Linked DNA regions of Homo sapiens: region 1 is linked to region 2. Evidence: fine-mapped expression QTL. A gene starts in region 2. The other region holds a variant in brackets. All regions are shown on one strand. Distances are from middle to middle.

What was found.
Region 1: its variant is fine-mapped to the expression of ORMDL1 in prefrontal cortex (CommonMind, PIP 0.95).

The regions. Positions count from the first base shown.
Region 1 is chr2:189,744,978-189,760,105 of GRCh38, forward strand. It overlaps ANKAR (ankyrin and armadillo repeat containing), which reads left to right. Exons shown (of 23, transcript NM_001378068.1): 23 at 1,403-1,670. The coding sequence ends at 1,650. OSGEPL1 (O-sialoglycoprotein endopeptidase like 1) reads right to left here. Exons shown (of 9, transcript NM_022353.3): 3 at 10,196-10,583; 4 at 9,164-9,368; 5 at 8,939-9,087; 6 at 7,872-8,002; 7 at 7,676-7,747; 8 at 5,573-5,679; 9 at 1,683-2,191. The coding sequence ends at 5,601. Among named protein-coding and RNA genes, the nearest start is that of OSGEPL1-AS1, 10 kb to the right of the region's middle. The variant T/TA (reference allele first, on the strand shown) is at 4,267.
Region 2 is chr2:189,773,433-189,789,835 of GRCh38, forward strand. ORMDL1 (ORMDL sphingolipid biosynthesis regulator 1) reads right to left here and starts at 10,907. Exons shown (of 5, transcript NM_016467.5): 1 at 10,837-10,907; 2 at 9,582-9,691; 3 at 8,990-9,170; 4 at 2,133-2,284. The coding sequence starts at 9,163. PMS1 (PMS1 homolog 1, mismatch repair system component) reads left to right here and starts at 11,018. Exons shown (of 13, transcript NM_000534.5): 1 at 11,018-11,161. RefSeq lists enhancers at 10,194-11,080, 10,366-10,445, 10,536-10,595, 10,606-10,835, 11,386-11,435 and a silencer at 10,976-11,025.

The DNA of each region.
Region 1 (15,128 bases), 29 kb before region 2:
TGAAACCCCATCTCTACTACTACTACTACTACTACTACTACTACTACTACTAATAATACAAAAATTAGCCAGGCATGGTGGCGCGTGCCTGTAATCCCAGCTACTTGGGAGGCTGAGGCAGGAGAATCGCTTGAACCTGGGAGGCAGAGGCTGCAGTCAGCTGAGATCGCACCACTGCACTCTGGCCTGGGTGACAGAGTGAGACTCTGTCTCAAAAAAAAAAGTAGAGGGTACCCCCACAAAAAAGTTTACCTGCATACTTCTCTTTTGTAATTCTGTCTACCTAAAATATCTTCCTAATTACAAGCCCATATTGATCATTTTCTGTAAGGCCTTCCCTATTATATCACTTGAAAGTGACTCCTGTCTTATTTTGCTTTTCTCAAACCATGCATAGAAGTAAGTCATTATTTAAACAACCTGTAAATATGACTTTGCTGTTTTATATCTGAAACAACTTACCTATCTGAATTCTCAGGGCAGAGACCACATTTTTTCCATTGATACTCTATATAGTTTTGTACATAGTTGGTACATTACACTTGAATGGACTAGATCTGCAGAGATCAGAGTCCAGATCTCATATTATTTATCCCTTCCTATTAGATATGTAATAGGGAATATAAATTACTTGTTAATTTCACATATCTGCTTAGTGCTTGTTCGTGTAGGACCAAAATCAGTCTTGATACGTTGTCCTATCACGAAAATCAAGGATAGAAACATTCAGAAGTCAAGATCAGTTTGCTAGAGTCACAAACAGAAAGGAAGAGAATTTAAAAAGACAGTAAAAGGAGAGGAAACAATTTCATGTATTCAGCCAGTATATGAGGGAAGCTAGGTATGTGGGGAGGCTATATAGAAATATATATAGAATATCATGGGTAGAAAAGCATCCATTTTTTATATAGCTTCTTGAATGTTAGAGTAATTTACATAAAAGAATAGTCAGTTCACTCTTCACTTTAACACTGGTTTCTAAACAACAACCTGTTTATCAGTCATGATCTGATGAAGTTTTCACAGGTTTGTAGTAACATAAGAAAAAATAAGGGCAAGGTAGCACGTTTCTGATAAAATTAATTTCATTCAATATCAAGTCCATCATTTTGAGATAATGCCTTTTACACTTTTTTTAGTATTAAAATATTCTTTATTTTACATAATGATATTTAAAGTAGTATTCGTTCTCTTATTGGTGCTAACTTGACATAACAAGCTAGCAAACCATATAGTGGTCCCCACAAATTTTTGGCCCCTGACATCTAAATGTCTGGAAGTACTGATCTGTTCTCTTAGTATGTTTTAGTTATGTAAAGAAAATAGAACTACATAGAAGTAGAAGTAATGAGACTATACCTAGGGCTCTCAGGAGAGACATTTAATTGTGGCTAATTTTTAGGGAAGGAGCACCGAAGAAAATTAAAACCTAAAATTCAACCAAAAGATTCTTTGACTTTATTACCTCCTGTAACTAACTTCATGGGACTCTTCAAAGCAACAAAAAAGACCAAGGATTCCCATAATATTTTTTCTTTTTCATCTACAATTACATCAGATATCACAAATGTATCAAGACCAAGAATAGTGTGTTTGAACCAACTTGGGAAACATGTCCAGAAAGCCAACCCAGAGCCTGCAGAAGGCTAATAAAACATTTTAGAATGAAAGGATTCCTGAGCCATCTTTTAAAAATTTTTTTATTTTTAATAATGGTAATATGCAAATAACATAACTGAATAATCTTTTTGAATGAAAGTTCTTGATCTCGATACTAAGCAGATTTTCCTTAGCATGTCTACAGGAATTTAGTGTCAGGTCAGAGTTATGGTTTCAAAAAATTAGGATTTCTGTAAACAAAGGCCTGCACTTAAACCTTAAAATTTATTGACTGACATGAGTGGTATAACTAGTGTATATATCAAGAGTTAACATTTTTAAATTGGTGTGCAAGAAGCCTGATTCAAAGTAGCTCACATGGTAACATTTATTGTAATACTTTGAGATATTTAGTAATAAATATTACAAATGTATAAGTCTTCTAAGACCCAAAATGTATACCTTAAGAAACATTTTGGCTAGGCATGGTGGCTCACACCCATAATCCCAGCACTTCTGGAGGCCAAGGTGGGAGGATCACTTGAATTCAGCAGTTCAGGACCAGCCCGGGCAACATGGCAAGAGCCTGTCTCTACAAAAAATAGAAATAAAGTTGGCTGGGCATGGACATGCACACCTGTAGTCCCGGCTATTCAAGAGGCTAAGGCAGGAGGATTGCTTGAGTTCAGGAAGTCAGGGTTGCAGTGAGTTGTGATCTGGCTACTGTACTCCAGCTGAGGTCAGAGAGTGAGACCCTGTCTCAAAAAAAAAAAAAAAAAAAAAGTCTGAGAGTCAGTGGATGAAGCAGAAAAGAAAAATTAAAAAAGAAAATAAAACAAAAATTTTTTAAAAGGGAAAAAAAGTTTTATTTAAAAATAAAATCTGAAATCATTGCCCATCAAGTACATGAGTATGGCTTTTGTGGCTAACAGTGTTGCTCATTCTCCATATTTATAGTGTCTTTGGTTTGCAACTGGAAAGGGTAATAGTCTTTGTGGCTTAGAACCATATGATGTCTTTGCTCAAATAGCAATGTCTGCTTCTCCTATTTTATAGCTGCAGATAGATATGATACAAACACCTGGCTTCACTGTGTACTTTATTTTACTTACTTACTTATTTATTTATTTATTCGAGATGGAGTCTTGCTCTGTCACCCAGGCTGGAGTGCAGTGGCAGGATCTTGGCTCACTCCGCCTCCTGGGTTCAGGCAATTCTCCTGCCTCAGCCTCTTGAGTAGCTGCGGTTACAGGCGCCTGCCACCACACCTGGCTAATTTTTGTATTTTTAGTAGAGATGAGGTTTCACCATGTTGGCCAGGCTGGTCTTGAACTCCTGACATCAGGTGATCCGCCTACCTTGGCCTCCCAAAGTGCTGGGATTACAGGTATGAGCCACTGCGCCTGGCTTCACTGTGTACTTTAAAGCTCCCCTTTTCTCCATCCACTTGCTGAATTGCCTCCATACAGTCTGAGGGTCTTGCTATAATCCATTCTCTACCTGGGCTGCAGTAAGCATTGAAAGTATATATTAATTAGCGGTTATTTTCCCCGATATGTACTTAGGGCTTTCTATGTGCTAGAGTCCAAAGTCAGTGGGTGAGTGAGTGGGTGAATGAATTATTATTTATTTATTTGTCTGTTTAAGACAGGGTCTTGCTCTGTTACCCAGGTTGGACGGCAATAGTGCAATCATAGCTCACTGTAGCCTATAACTCCTGGGTTCAAAGCAATCATCCCACCTCAGCCTCCTGAGTGGCTAGGGCTACAGGTTCTCAGTCTTTGTTATGCTGAGTGTGGTGGTACAGGCGTGTAGCCCTAGCTACTCAGGAAGCTGAGGTCTCTGCTATGTTGCCCAGGCTGGTCCCGAATTCCTGGCCTCAAGTGATCCTCCTCCCTTGGCCTCCCAAAGCATTAGGATGAGCTACCATGCAAAGTTTGTGTTCTTAACCACTAAAAAATAAGAGACCTCTTTAATCTTCATATTTACTTCTAAATTATCTTAATGGTGCTGAGTCACAACTTTCTGGTGGATTGACTGAAATATAGGAAATGCGGAGGGAAATGGTCTATTTTATACTAGAAAGGGATACATATTCAAGTGATGAATTGTGTTATCCAGCACCATTAAGGATAAGAATTTATAACAATGGAAATATTAAGTTTCTGTAGATATTTTTAAAAGCCTTTAGAGAGCAACTTTTGAGCTCTGAAACTGGTTTCAGGTAGGCTCAAGACTATACTTTAGGACTATTTTCAGGTTATCAGAGTTTCTTTGCATTCAATGCCAGATATTTCCTGAGTATCTTGGCCTAGCCAGACCATCCTACCACTCCTAAAATTTATACTACTTCTCCTATAAATCTCCCCTATAAAGATTATTTTTATTGGCTGGGCATGATGGCTCACACCTGTAATCCCAGCACTTTGGGAGGCCAAGGCGGGTGGATCACATGGTCAGGAGTTCGAGACCAGCCTAGCCAGCATGGTGAAACCCCATCTCTACTAAAAATACAAAAAATGAGCTGGGCATGGTGGTGCTTGCCTGTAGTCCCAGCTACTCGGGAGGCTGAGACAGGAGAATTGCTTGAACCTGGCAGACGGAGGTTGCAGTGAGCCGAGATCGAGCCATTGCACTCCAGTCTGGACAACAGAGCGAGACTCTGTC[T/TA]AAAAAAAAAAAAAAAAAAAAAAAGATTATTTTTATTACTCCACGGTTTTTTTTTTTTTAAACAATGTGTGAAAAGTCAGGCCCTGGAGGCTGAAGTTGGAGGATTACATGAGCCTAGGAGTTCTACTCCAGCCTGGGCAACATAGCAAGATGCTGTCTATAAAAATCGAAATAAAAAATTATGTATGAGAAAGGCCTCCAGATATAGAGGGTTACATTCAAAGAATTGTACATTTAGTTACTTTAATCAAGGCAGAAAAACAGTGATAAGCTTATAATATTTGCAGTACAAAGTTTGGATTAAAAAAAAATCCAAAAAAACTCCCTCATTTATTTCCATCTGATTATATACAATTTCTCAAATAACTGATGTGAAAGTATGTGGACAACTAAAGCGTACAATACATACTTGAGGGATTACTTATATGTTAAAATTGTAAAACCTCAAATTATATAGATTTTAAAAAATGCATAGACATCCTATTTACTCCAGAGATGATACCTAATAACGAACTCTTAAAATTAATAACATATTATGTTAGAGAAAGTCAGCTTTTGTCTTGATTTGGAAATGTCTGCTTTGACATGACTGATCTAAAATTGCTCTCTTGAGCACATCTGTAATCCCAGCATTTTGGGAGGCTGAGGCAGGCAGATTGCCTGAGCTCAGGAGTTCAAGACCACCCTGGGCAACATGGTGAAACCCCATCTCTACTAAAAAAACAAAAAATTAGCCAGACGTGGTGGTGGGCTCCTGTAGTCCCAGCTACTCAGGAGGCTGAAGCAGGAGAATCGCTTGAACCCAGAAGGTAGAGGTTGCATGCAGTAAGCTGAGATCACGCCACTGCAATCCAGCCTGGGTGACAGAGGGAGATTATCTCCAAAAAATAATAATGATAAAAAAAAATTAAACTGCTCTCTCATTATAAAGTCAGGTTCTTGTTTCAGTAGGAGTTAAAAAATAGCTTCTCCTATCCTGATTTGAGGAAGTGGGGGAAAGTCCTAGGCCTGTATGATACAGGGCCAGAATTCAGCAAAATTACTGTGCTTCTTTCAAAGCTTCCTTTCTACCTGCCAGCATCAATACATTCCTTTCTCAAAAGATGTTTTATTTTGGTTTTTAATAATTAAAAGAAAAAAACTATCTTCCCTTGTAAGACTTTTAACACATTATAGTATCTCAGAAGAGCAGGTAAAACATCAAATAGAAAAAAAAAAATAAAATCTTGATGAATAATTAATATTATATATCTTCTACAATTTGATACACAAAACAATAAAAACTTAATTTTAACCTTAATACTACCTTTAGGGACTTTTTTGAACAGCAGAAATCATATCTCCATTTTTAATTGTGGTACTTTTATGGAAGCTTCTCCAACTTCTTTTGATATGTCTACTCCAAGAGGACATCTACATCATAAGCAGACAAATCGTATTATTTATTTGCTTCATGATCCATCACTAGTTCTGCAGACTATTTGCTTAGAATTCTGATGGTATAAATATCAAATATTTAATTCATCATATGTGGTGATGATTCTTAAATACTTACAAATATACTGGGACCTCAAGTCAGGATAATGAAAGCTAGTCTCATTAATAAGAAATCTAAATTTTGAGATATTTTTGAAAGAAACAGTTTTGCTGTTCTCAAATACTGTAAATAAGTTAAAAACATAAAATGAAATATAAAAATAATGAAAAATATCTTATAATTCTCTACAAAGCTAAAAAGGTAAAAACATTTTTGCCACACAGCTAAAGTCAAACCTGTATCCATTCACATTTTAGAAATGTCCTAGGTTTCTATAGGTTCTTCTCTGAAGTTTCAAAAGCTGCCTTGCCCCTTTTCTACCATCCTTTGCCATTACTAGCCAAAGAGGTCTTAGTTCCTGCTGTCTTTTTCTGTTCCTCCTCAGTAACTAATTTTTGCTTCAGATTTCTGCTTTTCTACCATGGTGTCCAAGATAAGGCTTTGCTTTGACTGAATCCCAACCTGGAAAAAGCCATTATCTCCAGCCTCAACACTGCCACAAGGGGGCATAACTGAATCAGAGGATATACTCTATCTGAGACAAGGTATCAAAGGGATGCCTTCCGGTACTACTAACTCAATTCAGTTCATTCATCATCAGCATACATGTAATTCATATATAGCACAACTGTCAAGTTACGGAATATAATGCTGACAAGTTGTGTTTTTTTTTTTTTTTTTTGAGATGGAGTCTCACTCTGTCACCCGGGCTGGAGTGCAGTGGCGTGATCTCGGCTTACTGTAACCTCCACCTCGAGGATTCAGGCAATTCTCCTGCCTCAGCCTCCCGAGTAGCTGCGATTACAGGTGCCTGCCACTACGCCTGGCTAATTTTTGTATTTTCAGTAGAGACGGGGTTTCACCATGTTGGCCAGGCTGGTCTCGAACTCCTAACCTCAGATGATCTGCCCACCTCAGCCTCCCAAAGTGCTGGGATTACAGGCATGAGCCACCATGCCTGGCCAATGCTGACAAGTTTTAAAACATCAGATGAAACAGTGTTCAAAATATAATTATTTATGAAAATAATTGTCTTTTACTATTCCAGAATTAAAACAGAATTTGATAGTAATTTGAAAAACCAGCCAGGTGTGGTGGCTCACACCTGTCATCCCAGCATTTTGGGAGGCCGAGGTGGGTGGATCACTTGAGGCCTGGAGTTCGAGACCAGCCTGGCCAATGTGGCAAAACCCAAAAACTAAAAATACAAAAAATGAGCTGGGCACAGCTGTGTGAACCTGTAATTCCAGCTACTCAGGAGGCTGAGGCATGACAATCACTTGAATATGGGAAGCAGAGGTTGCAGTGAGCCGAGAATGCGCCACTGCACTCTAGCCTGGGTGACACTAAGACTCTAAAAAAAAAAAGAAAAAAAGTAAAGAAAAAACTGTGCTATTCACTGGAACTTTGATTTGGGAGAGGAAATAAGGCTTGCAGGAAACAGCTATCTTTCGGCCAATTCTCAACTGCCTGTGTAAGAGCATAATCACAACCCACTCTCACACCTGAATGCTTTCTGCATGTTTTCCTTAAATTTCCCAGCATACTTGCTGGTTCTGAGATGTTCTTGACATTGCAAAAGTCCAGGTCATGGACATAGTTTACATTCTAGTTCCAAAGGAGGGAATTCATCACCCTTACTCATGACCTGTTTCTAACTCACCTAAACTTGCCAAGATTTTTATAATTTGATACTGTAGCAAAAATATTTCTCATATGGTATCAACCTTAACTAGGTTCATGAAAGAAATTTATGTAACTTTCCTTCAAGTACCACCAGAATGTCAATGAAAACCTCATATATAAAGGCAAAATCCAGGCTTTGTCTTAAGTAATGTAACTTGCATAAAGATCATGAATGATACCACATACTTTGGTTCATAGCGGATGCCTTCTATGTCATGTAAAATGCCCAAGCCAGCACGTAGTCTTTCAATACCATTCCTAAATAAGAAGCATTAAAATAAAATCAATAGCTCCAAGATCTGAAGGAAGAAGGCTTAGTATGATAAAATGGCAATTAATATTTACATAGTTATGAGTGAAGCACGTATATCCTGTGGCTTACCATGCAATCATAATGCCATTATCAGTGCATAGTCTGGGAGGAGGACACAACAAAGTGCACTGTGTTGCATTTGTTAAAATTTCCAGAGCTCTGCGGATATAGAAGTTACTTGCGACACCACCAGATGCAACCTGAAGGAATTGAGAAAACCAAAATAACTATCATATATGGATATGAACCAAGCTGCTAATTAAACCTGGAGAAAAATATCAGCATTAAACAATAATAAACTATCCCATTTTGAGATGGGTAATGGGCAGATGACATATCTATGTAATAAAAATTTGGAAAGAAAAAAATTACTAATAATTCTAATAGCATACAAACATTACTAGCATTTTTGTATATTTTCTTCCAACCTTTCATCTAAATATTTATTTAATATAATTTCAATCATAGTACACTATTTTAGACCCTGAAATTTTTATTATTTTGTGCATTTTACTACATAACTCTGAAAAAATTATTCTTTGATATCCATGTAAAATTCCATCTATGAATTACTACCATTTAAACATTTTCCCACTTTAGTTTATAATTTTTAAATGAATAAAGTTTAAGATACAGTTAAACAGGATGTTTGTCAAGGCTTTTAAGCACAATTAAAGGGATTTTGGCTGGTACAATATAGTGGATTATCAGAACTTTATCAACATTAGTGTCACGAAAGTTGGTATACCACCTCCCACTGCTAAATTTGACTGGCTTATTAAAAAAACAAACAAACAAAGGGATTTCATCAAAGGATGAAGGAAATCCACCTATTTTTCTAAAAATAGTGATAGCAGTTACTGCATTTACTTTCTTTATTGTAAGCCCTCTTTTAAATCCAACAAGAAGATGCAAAATTAGACTTATGTGCCATAGAAGCTATACAGCTGTCCCATAAAGCTACCAAACTAGTACAAGAAATGGCTGTTAGTCTTTCCTATCCTGCATAATTTCATACTGTCAGGGCTAGCATAAGGCATAAAGATCTGTTCATCCTAAACACAAGGTCAAGGTCTTGGGAAAAAAGTAACATATTGCAAAGTGTAACTATTACTATAAAATGAGATAAAACTTACCAGTACTGCATTATTTTGAGGTAACAAGTCTCTCTGCTTACAAAACAGAATAGCCCGATGTGTTCTTTTCACAAGATGACATGCCATTGTGTGCTGTACTGTGGCAGCAATGTCTGCTGCTGAAGACAGGATTTGCCCCTTCTCAATACCTGCAGAAATGAGCAGCTATTTTTAGGCACAATCCAGGAATATTTATCTGTTCAACTTTACTAATTAGAAATATACCTTCCTCTTTTTCCTTTTTCATTATTATTTTATCAGTAACGTGTTGAAGTCCAGTAAAAGAAAAATCACAATTTTTAGCATGATGCAAGGGAGGTTTGATGTCAAAATGAAATCTATTTCCTTGTTTGGCCAAATGTTCTATGGCTTTCCCACCACTCATGGTGGAGCACTCTGGATGTTTTATTAAAGAAAGTCTTCTTGCCACCTATCAAAGAAACATATTTTTTAGAGTCATAAAATTAAATACTGTGAAACGAAAAGATGCAAAGGAAATAAATTGAAAATTACTAACAAAACAAAAAACCCCTGAATGAATAAAACATGCTATACTTTGGCAAATATAGACTATAGCTGATATTCAGGTAAGCAGACAACCCTGTTCCTTATGATGACCCGAACAATAAGAGGCCAATCACTGCCCCTGTCTATGTTTGCTCTTCTATTGGTTGGAAAATGGGCTTGAAGTTGACAATAACTGCTTAATGATGAACGTCAATAATAAGAACTTGTCCTATACTTCCTATTATTTCACTGTGGGAAGCAGTGTTTTGTTTGTTTGTTTGTTTGTTTTCCTATATATGGCAGTAGCCTCTGTAGTATTCTAAAACAAAGGGGGGTGGGGGGGGACCCTGTCTGTGGTGTAAGTAATTGTGTGATTTAATTCTGTGCATTGCATCTTTAATGTCCTTATGTTAATCTATATATATTCTCTTATTTTACCTTTTTTGCAGTATGTTAGTTTACGAAGCACGTTCTTTCACATACATTATTTGGCAAAATACATAACTGTATCTGCAAACTATTTCAGCCTTTATGTACAGATATGAACCTCTTACCATTTTATTAAGAAAGGCTAAGAATTATAAAATTGTGTACTACTCTTTCTATTTTTTCTCACCATATGTGAATTTTTTTCAGTTTACTAAGATAAAATTCAGAAATATTTAGGTGAATGGTGGTAGCACATCTATTGCTACTTAGTTGAAATGGACAACATAACAAAAAAGAATGGAGAAATTAATTCTTAATTACCTTGTCAAGCATGTCACCTGGTGCTATGTCCAAAGACTTTCCAAGAAGCAGAAAATCTGAAACTCCTTGAACTAATGCCAACAGACAGTGACCTCCAGAAATCAAAAGAACTAAAAAAGGAAATTCTACTTTATTGGTCAACCTAATAGTAAGTGCATGAGCCTCCATATGATGAATGGGAATGAATGGCTTTTTTAACTGTCCTACCAGCTGTAAGCTAAATGATAAGCCCACTCCCAGGCTTAAAGCAAGTCCTGGTTTTATGGTAGTTGCAATTGCTGAGAGGTCACTTGGAGAGACTCCACTGGCAGAAAGAGCTTCTTGTACTATTCGTTGAATATTTTCTCTGTGAAGCTGTTGAGCTGCTGGAGGAACAATCCCACCTGTTCTGAAAGAAAGAAAGACAGCATTTTGTAGTTTTAAGATTGTAAAAATGAAGAAAAATGATATTACAGCTAAAAGCATGTCTTCAAGTTAATCATTATATAGCTGAGTAAGTCAAGTATTTTCTAATTGTGTGCCTTCTAACATAGCACACTATGGTTAAAACTCAGTAAGCAGTAATTAAGGGGATAATGTTTCTGACTTTTTCAGTTTATGCACAACAGACTCCCATGGATTTGTTTGTTGACAAATGAAATCACCAAAATAATCTTGTAAAGCATTCCATACAAGTTTTGAGCATGGGAAGGACAGGAAAAAATTGTATTTAAGGAAAATTAATTTCCTTGCTGACAGAAGATTTTAAGAGAGATTACTGCGAAAGTATTTGTGTAAAATGATTATATCTTAAACTGGGCGATTGTGGGAATGGAAAGAAAGGGACAGAGAACCTTAAGAACTATAATAACTAACTGAATATAAAGGGACAGGGGGACTAAGGCATCAAAGTTTGTTCAGCTATTCAGCTGGAATGACCGGGAGAAAAGAAATTCTAAAAGAGAAACATGAAGACAGTTTTATAAAGACGACGAGTTTATTTTAAAACACATTCCACTTGAGGTCACAGCAGGATAGCAGATAGCTTGCAATCCTGAAATACAGTTTGGGAATCTGGTGCTCAGAGTTTGTAATTTGGATTTTTGGTCCATGTAGGATGGTGGATGGCCACTCCAAATATCAAGTGTAAAGAACTAAGAGACAAATTTGCTAGCAACAAATTTGCTACCATGTGATTGATTTACAATATGAGAACTGGAGCAATAAAATAGAGTCTGCAAAACGCACTGCTAGTTTCAAAAAAAAATCATCTTCCAATATTTGATGTTGCAAGATCTACTAGTTCTATGTGTAGAAATGAAAATCCTCAGTAAGTGCATTCAATGAATATTTGCTGAGTAATTAAAATATTGTTTCAGGCAATGAGGGGGATATAAATGAAATGATCTGATTTCAACACATCCACATTGTAATATAATTTTCCTTAATTCTTCAAAGCTACTTTTTCTCTTATATTCCTCATCTTTGTTAGTGGCATCAAATAACCCTTGGGTTTCAAAGTTCATCTTTACTTCCTTTCTCTCCCTCACTCTCCGCATTTAAGTTTATCACCACTCCCACTGCCAAGTCTCAAAAGCCCTCATCTCAGTCTGTTCAACAGTCTTCTAATTGTACTTTCCTAACTCTGTCCTTTGATCCTTAGAGCCCATCCTATATTGCTGCCAGAGAATACTCTAAAGCACATGCTACCAGTTATTCCCCTACTCAAAACCTTTAGTTTCATGGAATTTGGGAGACATCAAATCCAAATTCTCTCCCTGCAACTCATTTCTTCCTTCTCTGTCTTGCCTCCCTCCTTTCCTTTCTATGCCTTTTCTGTGTATTTTATCTTCCAGGGATTATGCTAAACACTAGGGCCAAATAAGAACATGGCTTTATTCTCAAAGAATTAATAATAACAATGTATTTTTGTCTATGATTTGTAGACAGTATGGAGTGTGGATTATGGAACAAAGCTAACAAAGAGGCAGGGAAACCACTGAGGCTTGAAGCTATAGCCAAGAGTCTGTGCAAAAGACAATAAGGGATTGAACTCAGTCAGTGAGAAGGGAGAGGAAAGTTGCAAAAAATATTTGGGAGATGGATTTACTATGAATGGATGACTGATTTGGATGTGGAATGGTGAGGGAGAAGTCAAGGGTGTCCTTCAGGTTTCTGGCTTGGAAGAAGGGACTCCTCCTGCCAAGTAATCCTCTATTATTGCATTTTCCATGCTGTTTCACAATGATCTGCTTACTGTCTTCTTCATTTTTACTGATGGTAGTAGTAGAACTACTATTGTTACTAAGAGCTAGCTTGTATTCAGCCCTTGCTATTCAAGAAGAATGCCCTAAAAGCTTTAAAGGAATTCACACTTAATATTCACAACATTAATTTGAGTTAGTGGTCATTATTATCATTTTACAGATAAGGAAACTGAGGCACAAAAAACTGTGCACAGTATCAAATGTAGTAAATGGTTGAACCAGAATATAAGCCTAGTAAATGGCTGAACCAGAATATAAGCCTACACTCTAACCCACTTATATGGTGAGCTGTTCAAAGGCAAGAGTCATATGTCTCATTTATATTTGTATCCCAAATGCCCTAAGTATTGCCTGGCAGCTATAGGTATTCAAAAAATGCTGAGATGAGCCAGGTGGATGGTATCACTGAAGCCTGTTTGCCCAGTAGTCTCCTCAAGTGACCTATGCTCTAGCTAAACTGAATGTCTAGTACTTTCTCACTTCTTTGTCTTTGCTGACAATGCTCACTTAGTGATATGGTTTGGATCTGTGTCCCTGCCCAAATCTCATGTAGAATGGTAATTCCCAATGTTGAAGATGGGGCCTGGTGGGAGATGACTACATCATGGGGGCGTATTTTCCCCTTGGTACTGTGTCGCGATAGTCAATGAGTTCTCATGAGATCTTGTTGTTTAAAAGTGTGGGCCGGGAGTGGTGGTTCACGCCTGTAATCCCATCACTTTGGGAGGCCGAGGTGGGTGGATCACTTGAGGTCGGGAGTTCGAGACAGCCTGACCAACATGGAGAAACCCCATCTCTACTAAAAATACAAAATTAGCTGGGCATGGTGGCGCATGCCTATAATCCCAGCTATTCTGAAGGCTGAGGGGGGAGAATCGCTTGAACCCGGGAGGCGGAGGTTGTGATGAGCCAAGATTGCACCATTGCACTCTGGTCTGGGCAACAAGAGCAAAACTCCATCTCAAAAGAAAAAAAAAAGTGTGTAGCACCTCACCCCCCCTCTCTCGGTCCTGCTCCTGCCATGTAAGACGCCTACTCCCAATTTGCCTTCCGCCATGAGTAAAAGCTCCCTGGGCCTCCCCAGAAGCAGATGCTGCCACGCTTCCTACACAGCCTGTGGAAACACGAACCAATTAAACCTCTTTTCTTTATAAATTACCCAGTCTCAGGTATTTCGTTATAGCAGTGCAAGAATGAACTAACACAGGTTATAATATTCTTTCCATCTCCATTCACTGAAGGCCTAACGAAAGGCCACTGAACACCTGTGATGTGTCAAACATTGTGTTAGGCACTAGGCATAGCATAGTGATTAATATAGACATGGCCCCTGTCACCTTGGCACTTAGACTCTACTGAGAGAGATTATACATACACAAGCAAATGTATAAATTGTGAAAGTATTACAAAGAAAATATGCAGGGTATGATGATACAGAATAAATAGGATGGGAGTACCTAATTTAGATAAAGTGGTCAGGGTAGTCCTTTCTGTGCCATTAACTTTTACATGTTCAAAAGTTCAGTGCACTCAGGAAAAACTGAAAGGACTGTGAAGCTGAGGCACGGTAATAATAGTTACTGTCTGCACCACTTGTTTTTCCTTATGCTATGCTGCCTTGCACTATTAATTCTCCTTGTAGGTCTAGACATCATGTCTCCATAATCAAGTTAAGCTTCCTTAAACCAAGGACTTTGCAGTACTTCACAGTGCCTTACTAATATCCAACACAGTCCCTTTCACATAGTTATTGTTTGAGGCTCAATCTGCCTCTTTACATACATTATTTCTAATGCCACCCTCCCGTAATTCTATGAGGCAGATGTTAATTTTCCTTTTTTTTTTTTTGAGACAGACTCTCACTCTGTCGCCCGGGCTGGAGTCCAATGGCGCGATCTCTGCTCACTGCAAGCTCCGCCTCCCGGGTTCACGCCATTCTCCTGCCTCAGCCTCCCAAGTAGCTGCGACTACAGGCGTCCGCCACCACGCCTGGCTAATTTTTTTTGTATTTTTAGTAGAGATGGGGTTTCACCATGTTAGCCAGGATGGTCTCAATCTCCTGACCTCATGGTCCACTTGCCTCGGCCTCCCAAAGTGATGCGATTACAGGCGTGAGCCACAGCGCCCAGCCAATTTTCCTATTTTACTGATGTGAAAACAGAATCAGAGAGGATATGGAACTTGCCTACAGTTACAGAGCCAATACCAAGTGCTTAATTCAGGATTCAAATACAGGACTGTGATTCCAAAATACCAGGCTTTTTCACTATTCAGATGTTGTAAATTGATAGCTTAAAGGTATACTCATCTGTAGAGTATTTTATTCTTATTTATTTATTTATTTATTTTTTTAGTATTTATTGATCATTCTTGGGTGTTTCTCGGAGAGGGGGATTTGGCAGGGCCATAGGACAATAGTGGAGAGAAGGTCAGCAGATAAACATGTGAACAAAGGTCTCTGGTTTTCCTAGGCAGAGGACTCTGCGGCCTTCTGCAGTGTTTATGTCCCTGGGTACTTGAGATTAGGGAGTGGTGATGACTCTTAACGAGTATGCTGCCTTCAAGCATCTGTCTAACAAAGCACATCTTGCACCGCCCTTAATCCATTTAACCCTGAGTTGACACAGCACATGTTTCAGAGAGCACGGGGTTGGGGGTAAGGTTATAGATCAACAGCATCCCAAGGC
Region 2 (16,403 bases):
CTTAAAAATCTGGAATATGGTGGCTCACCCTGTAATCCCAGCACTTTGGGAGGCCAAGGCAGGCGGATCACCTGAGGTGAGAAGTTCAAGACCAGCCTGGTCAACATGGTGAAACCCCATCTCTACTAAAAATACAAAAAGTAGCTGGGCACGGTGGTGCACGCCTGTAGTCCCAGCTACTGGGGAGGCTGAGGCAGGAGAATCGCTTGAACCTGGGAGGCGGAGGTTGCAGTGAGCCAAGATTATGCCACTGCACTCCGGCCTGGGCAGCAGAGCAAGACTCTTGTCTCAAAAAAAAAAAAAATTCTGGAATAACATTCCATGTCACACCTACCTGACAAATAATCAAATAAGAAAATGTGAAAGCACTGAAAAGTCCTAATGCTATATAGATGGCTTTAATGCTATTTCTTCAGTTAAGTAAGCAATTTAATCAGAATATTTGAAATCATACCTGTTGGTCAAAAATACATTTTGAGAAATATGGACACTGTATACAGGTACATCTCAGTTGGCTTTTTGTGTGATAGCTGTGATTAAAACTTCTGAATGTCAGGCATTTTACATGTATTATAATGCAATCCTCAATGTTTTACAGATGAGAAAACTGAGCTTTTGAAGAAAACGGCCAAAAGTCACAGAGCTTCAAAGGGGTTGAGCCAAAATCCAAATTCAGGGCCATCTGAATAACCAATATTTTTGTTATTACATGCATGCATGCATTCATTCACTTATTTATTTAATAAATCGGGTCTTGCTCTGTTGCCCAGACTGGAGTACAGCAGTGTGACTACAGCTCACTGCAGCCTCTTAACTCCTAGGCTCAAACCATCTTCCTGCCTCAGCTTCCCATGTAGCTTACATTTATTTTTATCAGACTACACTGACACTTTTCTTTGAGGTTAATATTATATGGGACTAAATCAATTCAAAATTTCCTCAAAGGGCTATAAATTAAGGAAAAAGAACCCCATTATTTTATGATCAGTTTATTCCTTTCACTTTAAAAATGCCTTCCCTTACTTAAATATCTAAAACCTAGTCTCTCTTAAGTTCTAACATAAGGATTTCCAACACCTCCAAGAAGTCTTTTGTGCTATGCCAGGCTGCACTGACTCTATCATGGACATTATTATGTATAGGCTAGATGGTACAGAGTATTAAGATATATGAGCAATACCTCTATTATGTGTAGGCCACTGTACTTACTGTGGGATTCAAAGCAATCCATGCACTTATAAATTCTTTGGAGAGACAAAATAAAACATATATACATTTTTTTATTTGTCAATTATACCTCAGTAAAGCTGGGGAAAAAAGGAGGAGGCATTTCAGGTAGGAGATATGATTTGAACTGATTTGAACAAAGACAGAAATAGGACTACACATGAAATATTCAAGAAATGCTGCTTAGAAGGCCAGGTAGGAGTTGGGTGGGGATAAAATATTTACATCAAGGGAAAAGGAGGTAAGAACTATTTTCTGGAAGGCCCAGAACATCAGATAGGAGAAAGAAATTAGATACCAGATACAGGTTACATGCTATCCAGGTAGATTATTATCTCATTTATTTCTTACAGCATTAGGATTGAATTAGGTATCACTAGCTAGAATTTTATATATGAGCAAACCAAGCTGGCTGAGTGATATATATAGGACTCCACCCAGGTCTATCCTATAATGAAAGCCTGACCTACTTTTTTCGAAACCATACTCTTTCCCAAGGAGTCTGAATATCTTAATAGGATAGGTGGCCAGTGAAATTCTTCTCATTATCTAAATCATTGCTTAAGGAGATTAATCTGACAGTGCAATATAGAATATGATTATGTATTTTGTGTCCTTATATGAAACCTAAGGACGGGAGCTGGAATACATTTGACCTGTATATCCTAAATGTCTAGGTGCACTGATTAGCATGTAATATTGTCTCCGTATATGTACTGACTGAAGTGAAAATTAGTTTATTATCAACTTGTTAAAAATTTTGTCTATATTTTATGTTCTATCCGAGGTGCTACTTATTGATAGAAGTTTGCAACAAAATATGTTTCTAATTCCAATTCAATCTGATGAAAAGATATCTTCCTCTTATCCAATCCTCCTCATACCTAAAAATTTCTGCCACTTACAGAATTATTGGAGAAATTGTGAAAAACTTCCGTGAAGATGTAAACTGTACTCCATAGTCCAGTTGTTCCCAATGAGTTAGGAGCCTTGCTTTACCCTGGTCAGGAGTTTCGAAAGGTGTTCCTTTCACTGCATGCAAAAATACGTACATCCCCTGGAAAACAAGCAAGGGGTTATAAATGATCAATATTAAATACAAAATTAGTCTTTGTCAGTAGCATTAACGAGGTTCCAAGCTGTTTGTGAGAGTGTGTGATTTAACTGAGTTCGTTTTAAGCTTTCATATAATAGTGAAAGGCTGTAGCCAGTTTCTTTATAATAAAATAGAACTTTCTGGGGTATAAAAATATTAAGTGAGAATTGGTAAAAGGTCAACTGAAAGTAACCTGTTTGCATTTCTATTCGTTAAACTAAAAATAATTATCAGGGTAGCTTCATATCTTTACATTCAGATTTTCTTACACTTTTCCTATTAGGAAATAGGATTACTTTTTCCCCAATGTACAGGAGGTTTTTCTTCAGGGTATATTAGTAAATTTGATGATACTTAAAAAATGATAAAGACATACAAAGTGGTAGAAAACAATAAAATGATTAAAATCTATTGGGAAAAATAGTTTTGAGATATTTAATATGATGACTGCCTTTGCCTTAATAGTTCTCTTCCAAAGCAATAAAAATAGTTTGATATAATAGGTATAATGTTCCACTCAATTCCCTTTTTAAATCGCTATTGTGCCTCAATAGCATTTCTTCTGAAGTCAGTTTTAAAAACTCAAAGCAAATAACATTACTAAAAGCCATTCTGTCAGATCATATGTCTAAACATATAATTTTTTTTATCAATAGGGTAGAAAAAAACCAATCTATAGATTTGGTTTCCTTGAGATTATGATACCCATTTAGACTCATAGGCAGTGTTTCATTCAGGATCACTGCTTGAGGCACTTTATGTAAAGGGATAATGCCTAAATATTATCATGACACAAAGTTTTTCCTTCTAGACGCCACAATGTGATGTCATTTTTCCTACCTCTACTTTTAATGATTATATAGAAAAATTAGGGATTTGAAATTTTATATGATACCAACTTAACCAAGCCCTTCCTTTCAAGGCTTAGTCTACTTCCTAGTTATTCCAGTAGGCAATTCAGAAGTCGTTTAGCTACAATAACACGTAAGCTATGGAGGAAAGGACTCATGTTCAATTGGATTTAACCCATCAAACATTTAATAGGTGGCTTATATGTACAAGACATAGGACATATATGCACATATGAAATTGAATGAGATGTACCCAAGCCTTGGAAAAATTCAATCCTCCAAGAGATGATAAGGAAAAAAAATGCATAAACAGCTAGAAAGTAGGGCAGAAATTGCTATCAAAGGTACAATCAGAATACTCAGCAAATGGCAGGGGAGGGAAAGGTTCCTTGTTGCTGTGCCAAAAGTCTTGATGCTACTTCATTACCTCATTCTTAAAGGTTCAGCTCAAATAACAATTCCTTAGAAAAACCTACCTCATTAGTAATAATTAATCTCCTCTTTATGTAGTTGTATACAATTTTATTGAAAATACGATTACAGTACAATATATCATGTTAGAGTTGTTTGCATGATGTTTGTTTTCCCATTAGCCTGAATACACTCGGAATAAGCACTGGGACACCGCAAGACATTAGACATTGGACACTTCCAACATTAGAAATGTTGGAAGATGACATTACGCCAAGGAGTATTTATTCTGTAAGCTCTACGAAACCATTTTCATATGGACTTTAAAGTGAATTATAAAACAGAAAGTATATGTTTTCAAATCATCGGGGGTATAGGACCCCCAAAAAGTTAAGAACATCTATTCCAGACCACATAGATATTAGAATATAAGAGAATAATCATCCTCTCATTATTTCCTTCAAACCATATGTACTTAACTAGTGTTTAGAATATCAAAACAGTTTATTTTATACATCTTTTCAGTGAAAAATAATAAAATCTTATCTGGCCATATATCTACTGCCCCAATATTTTTTAAATTGTTTTTATGTAAAAATGTTTGTGATTATTATTCCTCCATTAAAAGAATTAGAGAACAAAAGTATGTAGCTCATGCTTAGTCCTTACTAAATACCTACTGAATCAAAATGAATCATTCATTTTTAAAGCTGGGCCAAGAATCCTGTGAAGCATTAATACCTCTAAGGGTGAGGTAGCACTTAATAAAGCAACCACTGTAGGTTTCTACTGTACGGTTCAGAAAGGCAAATATACTGTATTTTTCTAACCGGGTGTAACAATTAGGTCCATTTTCTCATTTTTAAAGGCATTCAATATGTACTTCAGATTTTTAATTGGTTTAATGTGGCTATATTCAAAGGAAACTTAAATTTGGAGTCATGTAATTGCAACTCCGATGGCTAATTAAGTTTTTAGTGTGGTGAACTAATAACAAATAAATCAGAAGTTTGCTTTTCTATACAATGTCAATTACCAATCATTTGTCCATGGTCAACCAACTTGAAACACGGTTAGGGGGTGGTGGTGGTACAGGGATGGCATCTAAACCGTGGTGGCTCACACTCAGCACTTTGGGAGGCCGAGGCGGGCAGATCACCTGAGGTTGGGAGTTCGAGACCAGCCTGACCAACATGGTGAAACCCTGTCTGTACTAAAAATACAAAAATTAGCCAGGCATGGTGGTGCACACCTGTAATCCCAGCGACTCAGGAGGCTGAGGCAGGAGAATCGCTTGAACCCAGGAGGGGGAGGTTGCAGTGAGCCAAGATCGTGCCACTGTACTCCAGCCTGGGTGACAGAGTGAAACTCCGTCTCAAAAAAAAAGGACTAACTTATTCGGCAAACATTTAAATACGTTCTTAGCGATACAAAAATTAAAACATAAAGAGATAAACTGCTAATTATAAAACAATGACAAACACATGATAAAAGAATGCAGCATGGGAGTTGTGTAGATTCCTGGAGGGACAGTTTTGCTGTAGGAAATCAGGCAGAGCAGGAAGGAGGGAGAGGTATTAAAATAGTAGAGACTGGGCCGGGCATGGTAGCTCACACCTGTAATCCCAGCATTTTGGAAGGCCAAGGCAGGTGGATCACCTGAGGTCAGGAGTTCAAGTCCAGCCCGGCCAACATGTTGAAACCCCATCTGTACTAAAAATACAAAAATTAGCCAGGTGTAGTGGCACATGCCTGTAGTCCCATCTGTTCAGGACGCTGAGGCAGGAGAATTGCTTGAACCTGGGAGGTGCAGGTTGCAGTGAGCCAAGATTGCGCCACTGCACTCCAGCCTGGATGACACAGAGAGACTCCATCTCAAAAAAAATAAAAGTAGACCCTGAGTACTATGGCTCACTCATGCTTTGGGAGGCTGAGACAGGAGGATCACTTGAGGTCAGGAGTTTGAGACTAGACTGGGTAACACAGCAAGACCCCCATCTCAATCAGTCAATCAGCTGAGCATGGTGGCACACACCTATAGTCCTAGCTACTTGGAAGGCTGAGGCAGGAAGATCACTTGAGACCAGGAGTTCGAGGCTGCAGTGAGCTATGATCATGCCACTGCACTCCAGCCTGGGTAACAGAGTGAGACCCTGTCTCTGTAAGAAAAACAAAATGGCTGGGCATGCTGGCTCATGCCTGTAATCCCAGCACTTTTGGAGGATGGTGCAGAAGGACTGCTTGAGGCCAGGAGTTCAAGACCAGCCTGGGCAACATAGTGAGAGCCTATCACTATTAAAATAAAAACAAATTAGCCGGGTGTGGTGGCATGTGCCTGCAGTCCTCAAATTTATTGGGAAGCTAAGGTGGGAGGAGCTATGATCACGCCAGTCTCTTAAAAACAAAAGAGTACTTGGTCCAGGTGAAAAGAAAATATAGTAGAAAAGCTTAAGCCAAAACAATAAAATGAGAGCAAGATGATTTTCTTTATTGCTAGTGTATAGCCTCTATTTAGAGATGGTTGAGACAAGGTGAAGTCTCCTTGTTTCTGCACTGTTATCAACTGGTCTTATATGTCACACAAGAAACTTGGATTTTACCATGACTGCAATGGATGATCACTGAATGACTTAGAGTATGACTTGAGCAAACATGCATTTTTAAAACATCACTCTGCCAAGCTGGAATGGAGAAGGGTAGAGAAGCATCAAGAAGACTATTTGATTTATCTGAGTAATTTACTTGAGGAAAAAATGAGGGTATGGGGATCAAGTTGAGAGTAAAGCAGTAGAAGACAGTGCTCTGAGCAAATGGATATGGAATATAAAGGAAAAGAAGTTATCCTAAGACTTAGGTGACCTTGTATTCTTGTTTGCATACGATGGTTCTGATTATACCTAATCTCTTGTAGTAGTTATTACCAAAGCTCCATTTTACTCTCTAAACAGCCTGTTTGGACTATACATTACAGGTTGAGTATTCCTTATCCACAATGCTTTGGAGCAGAAGTGTTTCAGATTTTGGATTGTTTTGGATTTTGGAATATCGGCATATACATAATGAGATATCTTGGGGACAGGGCCCAAGTCTAAACATGAAATTCATTTATGTTTCATATACATCATACACACACAGCCTAAAGATAATTTTATATAGTATCTTTAATAATTTTGTGCATGAAATAAAGTTTTGATTGCATTTTAATTGCAACCTGTCAGGAAGTCAGGTATGGAATTTTCCGCTTGTGGCACAACACTGGTGCTAAAAAAGTTTCTAATTTTAGAACATTTTCTATTTTGGGTTTCTGATTAGGGATGCTCAACCTGTATATTAATTGCTTTACCATTAACATTCAGCTGTCTGGCTTGGCCTTTAGATAAGATTAGTAGTGAAGCCAGAGGATCAGATTGTGGGTGGTAAGGGAGTAATCAGGAATAAGATAAGTTCCATTTATACTTGTTTGGTTTAAGGTGCAAAGTAATCTGGTGATAAAAATAAATAGGAGCATCCTTATTCTACAGGTAGAAACTGAAAATATGGGTAGATGAAGTAACCTAGGTAGAATACATAGCATAAGAAGAGATGAAGAAAAGAACCTTGGGAATAGAAATATTTAAGAGAGGAAAAGAGAAGGAAGACCCCATAAGAAGAAAGAGAAGGTCAGAAATATATGCCGGTGAAAGTGATCCTATAGAAGCCAAAGGAAGTTTCAACAAAAGTGAGATGATTAGTGTAAAATATTTCAGAGAAGTCACTATTTAAAAGAAAACATCGTTTGCTCTTACAAAGTCTATCACATAAAATGGACTAAATGGACACATATTTATCATGTCTACCAGCACATCATTCTTATCCTCCTCCAGTCAACTTCAAATATACTCCAGAAGATAGAAAATAAATATTATTGTTATTATTTGAGGCAGGGTCTCACTGTCACCCAGGCTGGAGTGCAGTGGCACGATCTTGGCTCACTGCAACCTCCACCTCCCAGGCTCAAGCGATTCTCCTACCTCAGCCTCCCGAATAGCTGGGACTATAGATGTGCTGCCACCATGCCAGGCTAAGGTTTTGTATTTTTTGTAGAGACAGAATTTCAGGCTTCACCATGTTGCCCAGGCTGGTCTTGAAATCCTGAGCTCAAGTGATCTGTCCACCTCAGCCTCCCAAAGCACTGGGATTACAGGCATGAGCCACCGTGACTGGCCAAAATAAATATTAATTTTTAAAAATCAATTTCTCCTGTTTTCCTGTCTTAATGCTTTAAGTTCATTTTAAAAAATATCTTTCAACAAATGTACTGCTAAACTGGATTCAATTAAAATCCTCAACTAACTGTATTTCCTCCTTTTCACGTTACTTTAATGGGTTATTAAAGACAAGAAAAGTCGCTGTCAAGATTTTTTGTTTTTGTAAAAGGCAATTTCCAGGGCTGCATAATATGGTCAGTACAGTCAATCAAAACTTTGATACTCTGTAGAGCTAACACAAGAGAGTAACAAGCAGCAGCTAAGGCACCATAAGATCCTGAATCACATAAGATGATTAAGTTCAAAACTTAAATACTGAAACAGTGAAGTATACTTACACTATTTAGATAGATAAGTTAACAAGGATTGAAACTAAAATGATCTATTTTCTAGATTCTATACAATGAGAAAAAAAAAAGTCTTACTTAGAAAAAGGACCAATGTTGAAATAAAGCGTGAAAGAAAAAAGAAAATTCTATCCCAGATTAGAATTCTTCAAAATTAAGTCTTATATACTAAAAACTACTAAACTATACACTTTAAATGGGTGGATTTTATTGCATGTGAATTATATCTCAAAAAAGCTGTTAAAAAAACTAAGTTGTATACAACACAAAACCTTAAGCTTCTTTAAAAACTATGTTTAAACACACATGTCATAAAGTTTACCATCTTAGACACTTTTTTTTTTTTTTTGAGACGAAATCTCACTCTGTCACCTAGGCTGGAGTACAGTGGAATGATCTCGGCTCATTGCAACCTCTGCCTCCCAGGTTCAAGCGATTCTCCTGCCTCAGCCTCCCGAGTAGCTGGGACTACAGGCATGCGCCACCATGCCCGGCTAATTTTTGTATTTTTAGTAGAGATGAGGTTTCACCATGTTGGCCAGGCTGGTCTTGAACTCCTGACCTTGTGATCTGCCTGCCTTGGCCTCCCAAAGTGCTGGGACTTTAAATGTACAGTTGAGTGGTATTAAAAACATTCATATTGTTGTGCAATCATCACCATTACCATCCACATCCAGAACTCTCTTCATCTTGCAAAACCAAAAACTCTGTACCCATTAAGCAATAACTTTCCATTCCTTCCTCCCCTTAATTTCCGGCAACCACTAAACTTAAAACTTTTAAGTGTTTAGTATAATGTGAAATTCTTACCAGATTATGTATAATATTTGTTAAAGTCCAAGCAACAGGAACACTGAAGAAGGGAATGCTGAGTAAGACAATATGAAGCAAGCCAACTCCCAATGCATATGTCAGCCACATACCCCGGCTGTTCATGACACGGGTATTTGGATTCACTTCACTGTGGGCAACTCCAACGTTCATGTTTGCTCTGTAGGAAGTAATGAAATGAATCAACACTGATACAACTGGCAACCTAACACCCCCAATTCTGACATGACAAGGTACCTGTGTTGCGAGGATTATTTTTTCCTAGTTACTTTGAAGTAGCACACAAACACCATCCAAAATATGCTACTTGTAGATGCTGATGACAGCAGTAAAGAATCTTCAGCATTTGACTTTAGGGTAAGACAAGACTTGTTATTATGGTTCTATTTGAAAAAATAGTTACAATGCCTTTCCAAAAGTTTGTTTTCTAGCATGTTGTTTTACTGAATAGGAAAATTCAAACTGAAAGAGAAAACCTACATTTTCTTATATCATGAGAGCAAAGTGAAAAGCCAAAAGCTAAATTTACCAACATAATAAATTTATATTAAAAAGAAAAAGCAGAACTCACCGAGCCAGTGTGTCAAGTAGTCAGACTCTTATATTTGACTTAATGTATCCATAAAGAATGGTCAGAGTTCAGATCACTTCTTTCTGAATACTCAATGTGGAAGGTACATGCTGTTGACATAATGTGGTGTAAAATTTACATGGTCAAGGGATAATGTTTGTTTCTCAATTTTGTGATTAAACTAGGTGAAAATAAGGAGTCTTCTGAATATTTCTCTAGTCAAATCAAAAACTTCAGTTTTCTTTCTTCTTTTTAAAAAAGGTTTTCCCTTCTCCTTTCCATTGAAGATGGACTCCAAAGGAAGAATTGATAATAGTTCTCAGTTCTTTTAATGATGGTGTTTACTTGAGACTAAGAATTGCTTAAAATAAAACTGTCCTGAAGAACACCTATCATCCGACGGAGGGGGAAAACGAGGCTAGATTATATTTGGAACAGCTGTGATTTTAAAATACACAAACGCTTGTATTACGGAGTTAGCATACAGAGAGGAATTTCTCATAACCCCTTCCAGCAAATGTTTCCGGAGTATAATGCTCCTTCCGCTCTAGAGACCCATAGAACAGGCATCAAGGGTTAAGGGGACGAAAAGTTAGTTACACTAAGACCGCTAAAGCCTCCAATTTATATGTGTAAATCTTTCGTCTAAACACCCATGATTTATCATACATTAAACTATTATGTCATACTTAGAACATGCCAACACTCAAGATAGTTTTCCCACGTTCCACAGGATGGAGGCCTGAAATTTACATCTCAGCTGGAAGGCAAAGCTGGTGCGGTACTCATCCTATTCCAACCAGAAAACCTTTTCCCAGCAGGTTTGCCGCGCTGCCCACGACTGGCAAACAATGACCTTACAGACCGTGAAGAGGCTGTTGGCTCTGCCCTCGCCGGTGCCTCCGAAGACGGCGACCCGCAGCGGCCCCTCAGGGGAGTCCCCCCTGCTAGACCGACAGCCCGAGCGCTCTGGGCCAGAGAAAACTCAGCAAAAGCCGCCGCTGCTACCACCTCAGCGCCTCCCCCAACCCGCCCCTTCCTTCTCGCGGCCGCACGTCACGTCAGGACCCTGGCAAGACAACGAGGATTTGCGTAGGGGGCGAGCCTCTGAGGCCACTTGGCTCTTACGGCCACGCAGGGCGCCGCAGATGCAGCCGGAGCCCGCTTTTCCCTCTCAGGACGACCCCTAGGCCGCCAGCAGTTCCCTACCGACGAAGGCGACTGTACAGCGTCCACCGCGTTCGTGCCCACTTACCCGCCGCCCCACTCCGGGCCGCCGGCTCGCAGCAGGACCAGCCCGGCTGCTACGGCCGCGGATACACGCCCTCAGGCCCGGCGCTGCGCAGCTTGCGGAAGCTTTCCCGGACAGACTCGCTGCCAGCGGATTGGCTGCGAGCAGCGCCAATCTCACGTTGCCCCCGGGCGAGGCGGGACTCAGTGCCGCGCTCTCTGCACCCGCTCTGCCGCGCGCGTGCGTGCTGGGTGCGGGTGCGGGTGCGGGGTTGGGCCTGCGCATCGGGTGAGACGCTGGCTGCTTGCGGCTAGTGGATGGTAATTGCCTGCCTCGCGCTAGCAGGAAGGTAGTGTGGTGTGACTAACGGGTATTTATTATATCCTCGATGGCTCGAGGGCCCCGTCCCCTCTACTCGTCCTGGTCCGGGCGCGAACGCTATAGGGCAGCTAAGGGCGCTCCCCGCGGGGCGGGAAGCGAAGCCGGGCTTGCGGGCGCGCACACGTGGAACGCGTTTTCTGAGCAGGTCTGGGCTCCGGGGTGTTCTGGCTTGGTCTTTGTTGCGTCCCATTCCCCAGACCCTTCTGGGTGGAGGACTTAAAATTTGTTTTCCAGGCAGCAGATTTAACCCATGGCAACTGTAACTCATCTTGTGTGAGTGGCGGTTTATAGTATTGTATCCTGTGGCATCATACAAGGGGTGCAAGTTAAACTCTTTAAAGTTAATCACGATTTTTGCTCTTGGCCTTCTGGGTTTATCCGTACGCCGAAGACAGGCACCTGTATTACATGCTAAGGAAATGTGAATACCAAAAATTGATCCTGAGGAAAGTCTTGATTAGGTTTTTTTGGAATCGCCTTTGAAATGTAATTTCCCTCACCTTGGCAGTGCAGAAAGTTTGTGATTTTTATTGCCGAAATAGCTTTCAACATTTTGAAATTGACTTAAGAGAATGTTGGCTGTGTATGTCTGTATCTTGCATTTCTGTTGGCTTTGTGAACCTAATTGTTTTGGATTTAGTCTGATCTTTAAATAAATGATTTCTTTGTGTTCTCTCTAATGGAAGTCTGTGAGTTCTCTGATCTTTACTTCTTTTTTAGGCACACCTGTTGTCCTTAACTGACTTTCCGGGTCATCAGCACTTCTTCAGAAGTGTTCCTTTTCCCTCCCAGCAAATATGGAAGACTGACTATCCTGATATTCCCAGACATTCTTTGCTGTGATTTGTAAGCCCGATATAAACCCTTCCATTTGGTACACATATGGTATAGAGTGCTATATTCCAGGGGCTATGCTAGCGATGTGTGATTGATATAAAACCCCTGTCCTCAAAGAACTCTGAGTCAGGAGCAACAGACAGAAACACATATTAATAGAGTAACTTGTGATGAGGTTAATTAGAAATGAGGTAAAGGGGGACTGCAGGGGAAGGAATACCTAATCTGTTGGCAGGTGAAGGAAAGGAGGCTGCAGCAGGGAAGAAAGGCTTGAAGAGTTGATACTGAACTAAATCTGGAAGGATGATTAGAAGTCAGCTGAGAGAGAACCATGTGAGCTGAGGAAGGAGTGAGTGTCACCATGTTAAGAGAGACAAGTTGGCTGGGCACGGTGGCTCACACCTGTAATCCCAGCACTTTGGGAGGCCAAGGCGGGCGGATCACCTGAGGTCAGGAGTTCGAGACCAGCCTGGCCAACATGGTGAAACCCTGTCTCTACTAAAAATACGAAAATTAGCCGGGCGTGGTAGTGCGCTCCTGTAATCCCAGCTACTTGCAGGGCTGGGACAGGAGAATTGCTTGAACCTGGGAGGCAGAGGTTGCAGTGAGCCAAAATCGCTGCACTCTGGCCTGGGCAACAAAGTGAGACCCTGTCACAAAAAATAAAAAATAAAAAAAGACGAGCTGTGCAGTATGATCGCCCTAGAGCACATTTGGGCAACGATGGGATGACTGGGAGAGGAGGCAAAAATCCAGTTGTTAAGAAGTTTGTACTTAACCTGGTTGGCAATTGGAAACCTTTATAAAAATTTTAAGTGGGGCAGCAACATGATGAAATTTAAATACAGAAAGAACCCTATAGGTGGTTGAGATTCGAGTCAAAATATCAATTAGGTGGTTATTGCAGTAGTTCAGGAGAGAAAGGCCGAATGGAGGCAGTACAAAGAGGAGAGGACTAGTTTGGGAAACATTTAGATAGTAGGAGAGAGATGACTGGGTGGCAGGATGTAGAGAGCGAGTAGAATTTCTAGGATGACTTCAAGGTTTCTAATTTTGCTTTATGTGCTTGGATGGAAGGTGTTTGAGAGCATGGCCTTTGGAGTCAAACATGCCAAGGTGTGCATCTGCCACTTAATAGTTTTGTGATCTTGAGCAAGTTACCATGCCTTTAAATCCTATTTGGTGATAAAGGATGATAGAATACGTAGAGTTGTTGTGAGGATTAAATAGGATAATATATATAAAATTCTCATGTTGGCTATTACTTTTATTATCAAACAAGAAATATAGGAAGAAAGTTGATTAGAGGCCAGTCGTGGTGGCTCACGCCTGTAATCCCAGCACTTTGGGAGGCCGAGGCGGGCGGATCACCTGAGGTCAGGAGTTTGAGACCAGCCTGGCCAACATGGTGAAACCTTGGCTCTACTAAAAATACAAAAAATTAGCCAGGTGTGGTGGCGGGCACCTGTAATCCCAGCTACTCGGGAGGCTGAGGCAGGAGAATCGCTTGAACCCGGGAGGTGGAGGCTGCAGTGAGCGGAGATTGTGCCATTGCATTTCAGCCTGGGCAACAAGAGCGAAACCTGAAACTCTGTCTCAAAAAAAAGAAAGAGAAAGATTCTCTGATCAGTTTGGGACATGTTATGTTTAGGTTGCCTTCAGGTCATCTAAATGATGATATTTAGAAGGTAGATGGAAGTAAGGCCCTAAAGTCCAGAAAAAAAGTGTGAGATACAGGTGAGCTGGAGGATGGTGTGGAAGCCAATTGAAATTATGTATATAAAGGGAAGGAGGATACTTTTTCTAATGTTTGCGTTAGCATAAGAAAGATGCTGATAAATTATATTTAGTGGTCCTTCATTAATATTCATGAAGTGAAGGGCTTGCCATGGGTGAAGCATTTGATTGTTCTGCCTGGCATCCAGAGATACATAATACATAATTTCCTACATTCAAAAGTTGTACAGCAGGAAAAAAAAAGTTTTACAGTTCAGGACAAAGATGTAGTAGGTTTAATTATACAATTTAATTAATTTAATCTTTACAGTTATCTTACATTGATTATAGGACAAAATGATATTTGATATTTTGAATATATTAGATTATCCAAATACGTAATTAAGATTAACTTCACTTTTTTATTTTTTTTTTAGCTTTTTTAATGTGAGTACTAGAAAATTTTAAATGATGTATGTACATTATAGTTCTGTTGAACAGTGCTGGATAGAGTACTGGTTAAAATGGCAGGCTCTGAAATCACGCTACTTTGGTTTTATCCTAGCTCTTACTAACAGCTATATGATACTGAGGAAATTAAACTTTCTAAAACTCAATCAGCTAATCTATAAAATGGAGACAATACAGATATCATATGCTTATGAATTTGGTAGAGACACAAATATTCAGACTGTAGCAATTAGGAGAGAAGAAAGATGACATGACATGGAAGAAGAGTATGAAAAGAGATGCAGACATCTTAAGACCAGAGGATGCAATGGGATGGGGTAGATAAAGTGTGACAGAATTCATGCTATGAATTGCCATGATCTTAGTAAACTAGAAGAATGAGGAATATTGGGATGCAATTATAGAGATTTAAAAAAAAAAGATCTTGGATTTGGCATTGTAGGAGATGAGGTATTATAGGAAACGAGACAAAGATGATGAGATTAAGACTGCTCAGAAGGAGTCAGTCTAAGTTTATACCCCAAAGTTTTGTTGATCAGTGTTTTTCTTAGATCCTTGGGATTTCCTAGCTGAGGTGGAAGACTTCTTGAACCCAGGCCTAATGTGTGAGCCCCTTTGGGGTAGGGGTTAGAGGTGGGGGGATTGTTCATTTAGGGGTTTAGAGGAGCTCAGTTTAGTCCCAGTATCCTGGGATGTTTTTAGCACTTATATGCCAAACACTGTAATACATTATTTATATATACTACTTTATTTACTTCTCACCACAATCATATGATATCATTATTAGATCCATTTTATAGATTAGGTGATTGCATTTTAGAGAGTTTAATTTCCTCAGTGTTACATATCTGTTAGTGTAAGAGCTAGGATAAAACCAAAGTAGTGTGATTTCAGAGCCTGCCATTTTAACCACTGCTCTATCCAGCACTGTTCAATGGAACTATAAGCCACATCTATCATTTTAAATTTTCTAGTAGTCACATTAAACAGATTTTTTAAAAGGTTAGTTTTAATAATATATTTTATGTAATCTAGTGTATCCAAATAGGATAAAATCATTTCATCCTATAATCAATGTAAAAAATTGATATGATTTTTATTAATGCTGAGTTGGAAATTGAGTGTGTATTAGCACATCTCAATTTGGACTACCCACGTTTCTAGTGCTCTAGTGTTCAGTAAGCTACATATGACTGATGGCTACCATATTGGACAGTGCAGATCTGTCCCTTAGATCGAGGTAATTCTGAAGCTTTGGAAAAGTGCAGAGGTGCCTTTTGCTTGTGACAGCACTAATTTGTGTGAATGTTATGATGATGGAGTAGCCTATAGTCCACTGTTTCCCTGCTTGATTGGGACAGGAAAGCCTCCCAGCTGTTGAGAACAACAAAAACAACTATTGAAAGGTAGTTGTTCACAGCTGCTCTCCTGAGAACTGGGTACCCCAAAACTAAATCAAATATATAGATTAATTAGAGGGTAGTTAGTATTTAAAAAGAATTCTCAGCATTCCTTTACATAATGATCTCTTATTATAATACTCTACATTTTATAAGGCCTTATCATTTGTAGAACAACACTTTATATATTCTTCCTTATTTGATTCTTCACAGTAAACCAGTGAGGTATTAGCTCCATCTTTACAGATGATGAATTGATTTATGGAGGGATTTGAGTGATTTGCTCCATTTTTATAGATGACAAATTGATTTATGGAGGGATTTCAGTGATTTGCTGAGTTTATGTGTAATAAAGGTGAACCCCCAATACCTATTTTATAGGCTCTGGTCTGTTACATTTTTTTCATTGTGCCAATCACCTTTGCCTTCTATATAGCAAAATATACTGTATTTATGAACTGTGATCAGTTAACACTCTCAGAACCCAATATGTCGGCCTCTTCCCAGAAGTGCATTCCTTAAACTCCTGTGTAATTGTTATAGTGCCTGTACTCCATTTCCTACTCAATTACTGAGTCTTTCTTTACATGTCTTTGTCTTATGCTGCCTGAGAAATAATCCTAAACTGATGACTTTTTGTTGTGTTTGTTTTCGGTGTTGCTATTTTATTTGCACCTAGATTGCATAGGATTAAATCATCATAGGAGCATGTAACTAGTCATGGGAAACAAAGTACCTTGAGTCCACCCCCAGCCCCCATTTTTTTTGGTCCAATAAAATCTTGAT